2 separate regions of the Homo sapiens genome follow, and region 2 is linked to region 1. The links come from fine-mapping of genetic effects on gene expression. A gene starts in region 1. The other region holds a variant in brackets. All regions are shown on one strand. Distances are between the middles of the regions.

Evidence for each region. PIP is the estimated chance that this variant, and not a neighbour inherited with it, causes the effect.
Region 2: its variant is fine-mapped to the expression of CAPN12 in whole blood (TOPMed, PIP 0.96).

What each region holds. Positions count from the first base shown.
Region 1 is chr19:38,741,500-38,747,005 of GRCh38, forward strand. CAPN12 (calpain 12) reads right to left here and starts at 2,975. Exons shown (of 21, transcript NM_144691.4): 1 at 2,430-2,975; 2 at 1,534-1,603; 3 at 911-1,029; 4 at 278-411. The coding sequence starts at 2,666.
Region 2 is chr19:38,700,161-38,705,160 of GRCh38, forward strand. ACTN4 (actinin alpha 4) reads left to right here. Exons shown (of 21, transcript NM_004924.6): 2 at 440-554; 3 at 842-961; 4 at 4,774-4,860. It overlaps LOC107985291 (a long non-coding RNA gene), which reads right to left. Exons shown (of 2, transcript XR_001753937.2): 2 at 1,764-2,004. Among named protein-coding and RNA genes, the nearest start is that of CAPN12, 42 kb to the right of the region's middle. RefSeq lists enhancers at 2,345-2,845, 4,455-5,000. The variant C/T (reference allele first, on the strand shown) is at 2,890.

The DNA.
Region 1 (5,506 bases):
GAGGCAGAGGTTGCAGTGAGCCAAGATCGCGCTACTGCACTCCAGCCTGGGCGACAGAGTGAGTGAGACTCCGTCTCAAAAAAAAAGAAAAAAAAAAAAAACATGAAGTTGCTCAGGTGATGTTGTGATATGAGGGTTCTGGCGGTTGTCACTTGGTTTGGGATTCTTGGTGGGGTGTTTGGAGGATTGCAGAGCTTGGGGGACTCTGGGTCCCCCTGTGGCTTGATGCCTGCTGTGGGGACTTAGGGCTGCAGCTGGTTGGAACTGGGGTCCTCACTTGGCGTAGGCCTTCTCCAGGAGTGGGGCCCAGAACTCATTCCGCTGTTCCGAGCGCACGAACATCAGCTTCCCCTCACGCACGGGCAGCCTGTCATCCACCACGACGTCCATCCAGCGGCCAAACTGCCAGAGCTGGTGGGAGAAGATGCAGGGCCGGACTCGGCTTCCAACCTCCAACCCTGCCTGGGCCCTGCCTCTGCTGTGCCAGTCCCAGAGTCAGGAATTACAGCCCCAAGTCAACGTTAACTATGAAATCCATATGGCTGGCCGGGTGCGGTGGCTCACATCTGTAATCCCAGCACTTTGGGAGGCCGAGGCGGATGGATCACGAGGTCAGGAATTCGAGACCAGCCTGGCTAAGATGGTGAAATACCATCTCTACTAAAAATAAGAAAAAATTAGCTGGGCATGATGGCGGGTGCCTGTAATCCCAGCTACTCAGGAGGCTGAGGCAGAGAATTGCTTGAACCTGGGGGCGGGGCGAAGGTTGCAGTGAGCCGAGATTGTGCCACTGCACTCCAGCCTGGATGACAGAGTGAGATTCCATCTCAAAAAAAAAAAAAAAGAAAAATCCATATCACCAAGTCACCATGGGGGAAACGGAGGCATGGGCAGAGGAACTGAGCTGTACCTGGAAGTGGAAGACGCCTGCGTAGCCATGCTGGAAATCCTGTCCAGGAGGGACCACCCGGCGCAGGAGCCGGGGATACAGAGTAAGGGAGGCGGCAGCTGCAAGGAACCAGCAGTTACCTGGGAGGAGAGGCCAGGATTAGGTGAGGATGGAAGGAGGGAGGCCTGGTGCGGTGGCTCATGCCTCTAATCCCAGCACTTTGGGAGGCCAAGGCAGAAAGATCACGTGAGCCTAGGAGTTCAAGACCAGCCTGGCCAACATGGCAAGACTCCACTACAAGAAAATTTAAAAATTAGCTGGGCATGGTGGCATGCACCTGTAGTCCCAGCTACTTGGGAGGCTGAGGCAGGAAGATTGCTTGAGTCCAGGAGGTTAAGGCTGCAGTGAGCTATGATGGTGCCACTGTATTCCAGAATGGGTGACAGAGTGAGACCCCATCTCAAAAAAAAAAAAAAAAAAAAAAGGAAGGAAGGAAGGAGGGAGGAGGGAGAGAGAGGCCTAGGGAGAGAAGAGACTGAGGAGGGATCCAGGGGCCGGGAGTGGGTGGACAAAGGGATGGAGCTGTCAGGATCTCAGCTGAAACTAGCTGGATCTGAGGACTCCAGGTGGGTTCAGGGTCTCACCCAGGCTCCCCTGACACACGTCTGTGCGGCTCATGTCTTCACAGATGAACTTCGGCTCAGCACAGAACTCCTGTGGGTGGTGGGGGATTCCAGGCCTCAGCCTGAGAAAGCGAGGAAAGGTCTCATCCAGAGGAGTGAGGGCCTCCAAGCCCATGAAAGGCCTGGAAGCCTGTGGGCAGGAGCATGGCTTCCCTGGGTCTCCAGAAGTTGTGCTGAGCCAGTCCCATGGTAGCCCCCTCCTCCCTCAGACCCGGGAGTCCAGGCCCAGCCCCTCCTCCCTCAGACCCAGGAGTCCATGTCCCGAGCCCCTCCTCCCTCAGACCCAGGAGTCCAGGCCCAGCCCCTCCTCCCTCAGACCCAGGAGTCCAGGTCCCGAGCCCCTCCTCCCTCAGACCCAGGAGTCCAGGCCCAGCCCCTCCTCCCTCAGACCCAGGAGTCCAGGTCCCGAGCCCCTCCTCCCTCAGACCCAAGAATCCAGGTCCCCAGCCCCTCCTCCCTCAGACCCAGGAGTCCAGGTCCAGCCCCTCCTCCCTCAGACCCCGGAGTCCAGGTCCCCAGCCCCCTCTTCCCTCAGACCCAGGTGTCCAGGCCTTGGCCTCTCCTCCCTCAGATCCAGAAGTCCAGGTCCAAGCCCCCTCCTCCCTCAGACCCAGGAGTCCAGGTCCCCAGCCCCTCCTCCCTCAGACCCAAGAGTCCAGGCCCAGCCCTTCCTCCCTCAGACCCAGGAGTCCAGGCCCAGCCCCTCCTCCCTCAGACCTAAGAGTCCAGGTCTCGAGCCCCTCCTCCCTCAGACCAGGGAGTCCAGGCCCCCAGCCTTCCTTCCTCAGACCCAGGAGTCCATGCCTCCAGCCCCTCCTCCCTCAGACCCCAGAGCCCAGACCCCAGCCACACTTTACATGGGGCCTCATCCATTTCACGCCTTTGGCCTTCTCCGAGTCCGGCCCCAGCTGGTCATAGCCAAGGGCATCAGGGCCAGCAGGGAAGTAAGGGTCGCGGAACAGGATCCCCGAATCCAGGCAGGCTGCCCGAATTGCCTCATAGCTCTGGCCCCGAAAAAGCTGCAGGCGCCCGGCTCCGACCCCAGCCTCCTCATCCACGAGCTGGATGGTGACCCTCCCACTGCTGGATGCCATCTGGACACTGGCCTCACAAGCCGGCACCAGGCCCTTTAACCTCCTGAGTCACGGGGGCGGGGCCTCTCTTCCATTGGAGCCCCAGTGGGGTCTTTAGGCAATGAGGAGCCTTCCCTCGTTAATATTAATTGATGGTTTGGGGTGCTGGGGAGCAGGGACGCCTCTTCAGTAGCTTTCTTCCCAGGGCGTGGGGCCTTCAGTTGTGGCCAAGGTAGCAGCTTAATGGGCTTGGCCAGCAGCAGGAGAGAAGGCGGGCAGAGCTGAGGGAGGACCGGCTGCCGCTGTCAGAGCACCAAGAAGGAGGTCAGTGTGGGGGTGAGCTTCTGCCTACTTATGCCTGTGGGGCTGGGGAAGGAGGCGGGTTTACCTCGGTGTCTCTATCTCTCAGACTGCCTCTCTCCCCCTCCCTCTGACAGTTTCTCTCTCCCCGCCTTCATGTTTCTTCTCCATCAGTTTCTGGAGTGCAGTGGCACGATCTCAGCTCACTGCAACCTCCGCCTTCTAGGTTCAAGTGATTCTCCTGCCTCAGCCTCCCAAGTAGCTGGGATTACAGGCTCGTGTCACCATGCCCAGCTAATTTTTGTATTTTTTGTTAGAGAAGGGATTTTACCATGTTGACCAGGCTGGTCTTGAACTCCTGGCCTCAAGCAATCCGCCCACCTTGGCCTCCCAAAGTGCTGGGATTACAGACGTGAGCCACTGTGCCTGGTCAGGTTTTGTTAATTAAAAAAAATTTTTTTTAAAGTAGAGACAGAGGGGTGGCGGGGGGCGGTCCCATATGTTCCCCAGGCTGGTCTTGAACTGCTGGCCTCAAGTGATCCTCCTGCTTCAGCAGCCTCCCAGAGAGCTGGGATTACAGATGTGAGCTACTGTGCCTGGCCCTTTCTTGTTTTTTGTTTCTGGCAATATTTGTGTCTCTGTATTTCCCCAACTCCACCCCTCTCCCCACCCCACCCTCTTTTTTTTTTTTTTTTTTTTTTTGTAGAGATGGGGCGGGGATCTCACTTTGTTGCCCAGACTGGTCTCGAACTCCTGGGCTCAAGTGATCCTCCCCGCTTGGCCTCCCAAAGTGTTGGGATTACAGGCGTGAATCACTATGCCTGTCCCCTCTCTCTTTGTGTCTCTTTCAGCGTGTGTCTGTTCCTCTCTGTACCTGTCAGACCCAGGAGTCCAGGCCCCCAGCCCCTCCTCCTTCAGACCCTGTCAGTGTACCTTGTGTCTGCCTCCCTGTCTCTTCCTCTCCATCTTTCTGTCTGTCCCTGTAACCCATATGTGGCTCCTCCATCATCCACCGAGGGACCCTGAGCTCCCCTCCGCTCACGCCCCCTAAGCCCTCAGGATGCGCCTCCTCCCCTCCCGGACAAGGTAGACTCAGCCTGCTTGCCCAGGGAGGCTGACCCTGGAGGGATGGCTCTGTACCTCTCCTGTGCTGGGAGCCATCTGGTGACCATGATGCCCTGCCCTGGCCCACGCCACTCAGAGTCTGGATGGAGCAGTATTTCCCCCAAAGGACTCTGGAGCCATTGGAGGAAATGGGAGAAACAGGTACGGAGATGCCAGAGCCTCAGCAGTGCTGGTCCCAGCAGACCTTCCACCCTCGTTGAGGGTGTCTGCTGCCCTCCCAGAGCCTTGTCACCTCCACGCCACTCAGATGTCCCTCAAGCCTTTTGGCCTTCTTCCCTCCAAGTGGACCCACAAATATTGTCCAAGCCACCCACGTACACGGCTACCAAAAGTGGGTTACAAAACAGGCTTTCTGGCTGGGCGTGGTGGCTCATGCCTGTAATCCCAGCACTTTGGGAGGCCGAGGCAGGCAGATCACCTGAGGTCAGGAGTTCGAGACCAGCCAGGCCAATGTAGTGAAACTCCGTCTCTACTAAAATACAAAAATTAGCCGGACATAGTTGCGGGCACCTGTAATCCCAGCTACTCAGAAGGCTGAGGCAGGAGAACCGCTTGAATCTGGGAGGCGGAGGTTGCAGTGAGCCGAGATTGTGCCACTGCACTCCAGCCTGGGCAACAGGGCAAGACTGCATCTCAAAAAACCCCCCAAAACAGGGCCGGGCATGGTGGCTCATGCCCGTAATCCCAGCACTTTGGGAGGCTGAGGTGGGCAGAACACTTGAGGCCAGGAGTTCAAGACCAGCCTGGCCAACATGGTGAAACACCATCTCTATTAAAAATACAAAAATTAGGCTGGACGCGGTAGTTTACTACGCCTGTAATCCCAGCACTTTGGGAGGCCGAGACGGGCGGGTCAGGAGTTCCAGACCAGCCTGGCCAACATGGTGAAACCCCATCTCTACTAAAAAATACAAAAAAATTAGCTGGGTGTGGTGGCACGCACCTGTAATCCCAGCTACTCAGGAGGCTGAGGTAGGAGAATCGCTTGAACCCGAGAGGTGGAGGTTTCAGTGAGCCAAGACTGCACCACTGCACTCCAGCCTCGGCAAGAGAGCAAAACTCCATCTCAAAAAAAAAAAAAAAAAGGCCGGGCACGGTGGCTCAAGCCTGTAATCCCAGCAGCACTTTGGGAGGCCAAAGCAGGCAGATCACGAGGTCAGGAGATCAAGACCATCCTGGCTAACACGGTGAAACCCCATCTCTACTACAAAAAATACAAAAAATTAGCCAGGCATGGTGGCGGCCACCTGTAGTCCCAGCTACTCGGGAGGCTGAGGCAGGAGAATGACGTGGACCCAGGAGGCGAAGCTTGCAGTGAGCCGCCACTGCACTCCAGCCTGGTTGACAGAGCAAGACTCTGTCTCAAAAAAAAAAAAAAAAAAAAAAATTAGCTGGGCATGGTGGTACACACCTGTAATCCCAGCTACTCAGGAGGG
Region 2 (5,000 bases), 42 kb before region 1:
GAGCCCGACCTGTTCATTCCACACCACCGAGCCTGGTGCTCAGTCATGTTTGTGTGACTGAGTGAGCCGGCGGCGGGCTGAGGCGCTTTTGTCTGGTGTGCGTACTGGTCTCCCTTGAGGCAGCTTGGGGGTGTGGAAAAAGCACATGTTGCCAAAATTGACAGACCTGGGTTCAAATCCAAGCTCTGCCACTTACCGCCTGGATGGTCTTGTGATGGGTCATTAACCACCCCGAGCCTCAGTTTCCTCACATCTGCCTCCCGGGGTCACTGTAAGGATCAGAAACAATGTGTGTATCGGCCATGTACGGTGTGTGTCGGCGAGTGCTCCGTGGCAGCTGCGGTTCTCCTGAGGTCAGAGCTGCGGCCCTGCAGGTGTGTGGAGAGAGCCCCGACAGCCAGGCTGACTCTGCGCACTGTCCTTTGTTCTGCTTCCCCAGACCTTCACGGCATGGTGCAACTCCCACCTGCGGAAGGCAGGCACACAGATCGAGAACATTGATGAGGACTTCCGAGACGGGCTCAAGCTCATGCTGCTCCTGGAGGTCATATCAGGTGAGACTCCCAGCCACGCAGTGCGGCCGAGCCCTGGCACAGGTGCTCTGCCACAGCGGTCCCCAGAGACCCTGCCCACCCAGCTGTCCCATTGCTCCTGGGGAGGAGAGGGCACCCCTTAATAGCTGCACGGTGGTCTGATGGGTGGGGCCAGAGTGGCCTGGTGGGCCAGCAGAGGAACCTGCTTTTGGAGAACAGAGGAGACTCTAAAGCCTCTCTCCCTCTCGCCCTCTCTCCCTTTCTCTCTCTCTGTCTCGCCCCCTCTTTTCTCTTTGTGCACTTCTCAGGGGAGCGGTTACCTAAGCCGGAGCGGGGGAAGATGAGAGTGCACAAAATCAACAATGTGAACAAAGCGCTGGACTTTATTGCCAGCAAAGGCGTCAAGCTGGTCTCCATCGGGGCAGAAGGTGAGCTGGAGGTGGGGCAGCGAGGGTCCTGCTCGGTTTCTGACCTTTAGGCTCTGAAGCACAACATCTGCATCCTGAAGAGAAGTTTTGTTGGTGGCAGGGCGCTTGGGGCACTCAGAGCCCCAGTACATACTCAGCAGTGATCACAACAACTGCTCTTGATATGATGCTGGGCCCACAAGCTCCCCCAAACCCTTGGAAAAATCCGGTGGGCGCAGTCCAAATCTAGGAAGTGCAACCCACCCAACCACGGGGGCGACGGCTTCTGCAGGGGGAGGAATGGTTTTGACTCGGACTCAGGTCGCCCTCACTGGTTCTCCTTGTGCCAGGCTCAGCAGACAGTGACAAACATGTGCCATGGCCTCTCTCTGTACCAGGAACACCTTTCTCATTATGCCCTGCCCGGTATCAGAGAAGGACTGGAGGCCCCATGTCAGGCATTGGGACAGGGAGTGCACGGCCAAAGGTCAGTGCCTAGACTTTGCCCTGTGTGCATGGGCTTGGAGAATTTTGCCTCTGACCACCCCAGGATCCTCCTGGGCCCCACGTAGATAACCAGGACCACAGTCCACTACCTGCAGGCCCTCACTAGAGCAGCAGGCTCTCAGCAGGGGCCCCTGGGTTGAGCTCCCAGGCGCTTTTAGAGACAGGCGAGGCCTGATGGAGCCCCAGCAGCATGAGCTCGCAGTCCACTCATTAGTCAGAGTAAGATTTCTTCACCCTGACATCCATGTTGTCCCAGCTTCTAGAAAAACAAAGTAAACTAATTGCCGTTAATGACAGGGCTCTGAGAGTTTGGCCAAGACTCCGGGCCAGAATGTGTGTGCTGAGTTCCAAGGCTCTGCCCCGGCCCAGGACCTCTGCGATGAGGGGTGCCAAGCCTTGCATGCCACAGTCGAGGTGGTTGGTGTTTGTTTAAAAAAATCACAACCCAAAAATTCAGTCAGGCCCTGAGATTTTCTGTCCTTGCATGGGTCTTTCCTCCAGGCTCTGTTCCAGCCTTCTGCTTCTCACAGCTGCATTTATTTTGCTCAAATGCTAGTCTGTAAATACAGAAGGGGTTAGAGGAGAGACCCATGTCAGTCATCAGTTTTCATTTGGAGAAAAACTTGGTCTAAAAATGTTCTCTGTTCATGCCCAAATTGGTTCACTCCCAATCCCTGTGACTGTGGGGCCTTGGAACAAAGCCTAATGGAGGCGTTCCTGGGGCTCAAGGCACCTGAGAACCCCGCCCCACCCTGTCCCCCTGTCCTTCCACATGATTGGGCATTCGCGGGAGCATTGGCTTCCCGTGGGGGTGATGAGAGGGGCCGGAGGCACAGCTGCAGGTCAGAGAAGCAGCTGGTGGATGTGTCATGAGAAACGCCATCCTCCTCTCCTCACCGGAACTCCATAAGCCCTCCGTTACCAGCTGCACCTGTACTTGCTGAGCCGGGGAGCTGCGGCCTTGCCCAGCTCTGCAGGCCCGGCCCTCAGGAGGTGCACAGAATAGATTTCCTGAGGCTCGAGCTGCCTCGCTGCACTAAGGGGCAGGTGGTGCTGCTCAGTTTCTGGGTCTGGGGCTCTGAACCCTAGGACAGGGTGGACACTGGGTCCCTCCCCTGTCTCTGGGCAGCAGAATGAGCATATTTCCTCCTCTCAAAACCCGAAAGCTGTGGCTCATGGACACCCCCTTCCTCTGGGTGTGTCCCCGGGGGAAGGTGAGCCCCATCTTCTCTGTGACCTCTCCACCTGCTTCCAAGCAAGCCTGCCCTGGAGTATTCTGCTCAGAGGTCAGTGAGCAGGGTCTCCTGTGGTGTCCTGGGCCTCCAGCTCTGCAGTTAGCTTTGGAACTCACCCCTGTGCCCAGCCCTTCCCCGAGAGTGCTTGCAGCAGTGGCGCCCCTCTGTCTTCTTTGGAAGCCACTCCATCATGCCCCTTGCATATGG[C/T]GTGTTGACAAGTTGGGAGGACTGCCCTAGGCACGGCTGGCTGATGGACTCTGGGATGAGGCACTGCCTTCTCTCACCCAGCCGCAGACACACAGCTGTCCTGGGCCTTGCAGAGATGATTTTTCTCTTAAGTTACTGAGGCTGAAGAAGGTGTGGTCCAAGCCCTTCTTTTGAGAAGTTTCAGCAATTTTTTTTTTTTTTTTTTTGAGATGGAATCTCACTCTTGTCACCTAGGCTGGAGTGCAATGGTGCAATCTCAGCTCACTGCAACCTCTGCCTCCCGGGCTCAAGCAATTCTCCTGCCTCAGCCTCCAGAGTAGCTGGGATTACAAGCACCCGCCACCACGCCAGGCTAATTTTGTGTTTTTAGTAGAGACGGGGCTTCACCATCTTGGCCGGGCTGGTCTCGAACTCCTGACCTCAGGCGATCCACACCTGCCTCAGCCTCCCAAATTGCTGGGACTAAACAGGCGTGAGCCACCACAGCCGGCCGCAAATGTTTGTTTTTAGGTTAGTTCAGAAAGCGTGCAGTCTGGCCTCAGGCCCGTGCTCTCCCCTTCCTGACAACACAGCAGCCATGCTTGTTCCTCACTGGCCTTCCAGGCACTGGATCCAGTGGTGGTCAGAGCAGCCCCGCCCTCACGAGGGCAGGCAGACAGTGAACAAGTAAACAGCCCGACCAACATGTGATTTCACTAGTGATGCCTTGGGGCAGCACAGGGGCCAGGGAGAGGAACTGGGTGGCGGGTTGGGGAGCTCCTTGGGACGGGCAGTCAGGGAAGCCACCACGAGAGGTGACACAAGCAGAAGCTTACACGATGAGAAGGACCAGCCAGTTGAGGGTCGCAGGCTAGGGGCGTGCTTTGTGAGTGGACAGAGCGTATCAAAGCAAGAAAGAGCCTGGCTTGCCCAGAGGATGCAGCTAGAGAATTCCAGCAGGATGGCAGGGCCTGGGCCTTCAGGGCAAGCCCTTTCCCTGTGGGCCAGGCATGGTGGCTCACACCTGCAATCCCAGCACTTTGGGAGGCCAAGGCAGGAAGATCACTTGAGCAGGAGTTTGAGACCAGCTTGGGTAACATAATAAGACCCAGCCTCTACAAAAAGTTTAAAAACTAGCAAGATGTTGTGGCATGCGTCTGTGGTCCCAGCTACTCGGGAGACTGAGGCAGAAGGATTGCTTGAGCCCAGGCAGTCAAGGCTGCAGTGAGCTATGACTACACCATTGCACTCCAGCCAGCCAGACCCTGTCTCAAAAGAAGGAAACCAACCATGCTCGCTGCTGTGTCGATGTGGATTATGGGCGGGAAGGGTACATAGGAGGCAGCCGCATTGAGCTCTGGAGATGACAGTGGCTTGGTGGAGAGTGTCGGCAGTAGGATTGGAAGGAAGTGGACAGATTCACAATAAACAATAATGTAGTGCACATTTGCTGACTGCGAGATGAAAAAGACCACCTTTGCCCTGAGAGTGGGGGCCCGGGGTGCCCCCCTGTAGTCAGGAGGTACGCAGATTACGGCAGAAATGTACAGAGCACTGAGAGTTGAGAGAGGTGTGAACAGAGGCCACACGCCTGGGACCAGCCTCTTGGAGGAGCGGTTTTTTGAGTTGGGTCAGGAGAAGGAGCTGGCTGCGGGGCCAGGGACCCTTGTGGCCAGAAGCCTGCAGGCGCTCAGCAGCAGGAGGCTCTGGGACAGTGCTGCCTAGAGACTGTTCCCTGCATTTTCTCCTGAGGGAGGTGGAGGAGGACAGGCCTGGGAGATGCAACCAGGGGGTGGTTTGGAGCCTTTCTCTAGATGGGGCTGGAAGGCCACCTTCAGGTTGGGCGGAGGAGCCTCACTCTGGTTTTAACGACCTTCTGCCCTCTGCCCCCTTCCCTGTGTGCAGAGATTGTGGACGGCAACGCAAAGATGACCCTGGGAATGATCTGGACCATCATCCTTAGGTTCGCCATCCAGGACATCTCCGTGGAAGGTGACAGCCACCTGTACTGCCCCCGCTTCCCACCTGAGTCAGGGCGGGTTAGAGGAGAGCTGAAGTGTGATCTTCATGCTTCAAGCCTCTTCCTGTTTCCTTGGGGTCACTCACAGGGCCTGGCCCTTGCAGGGGTAGTC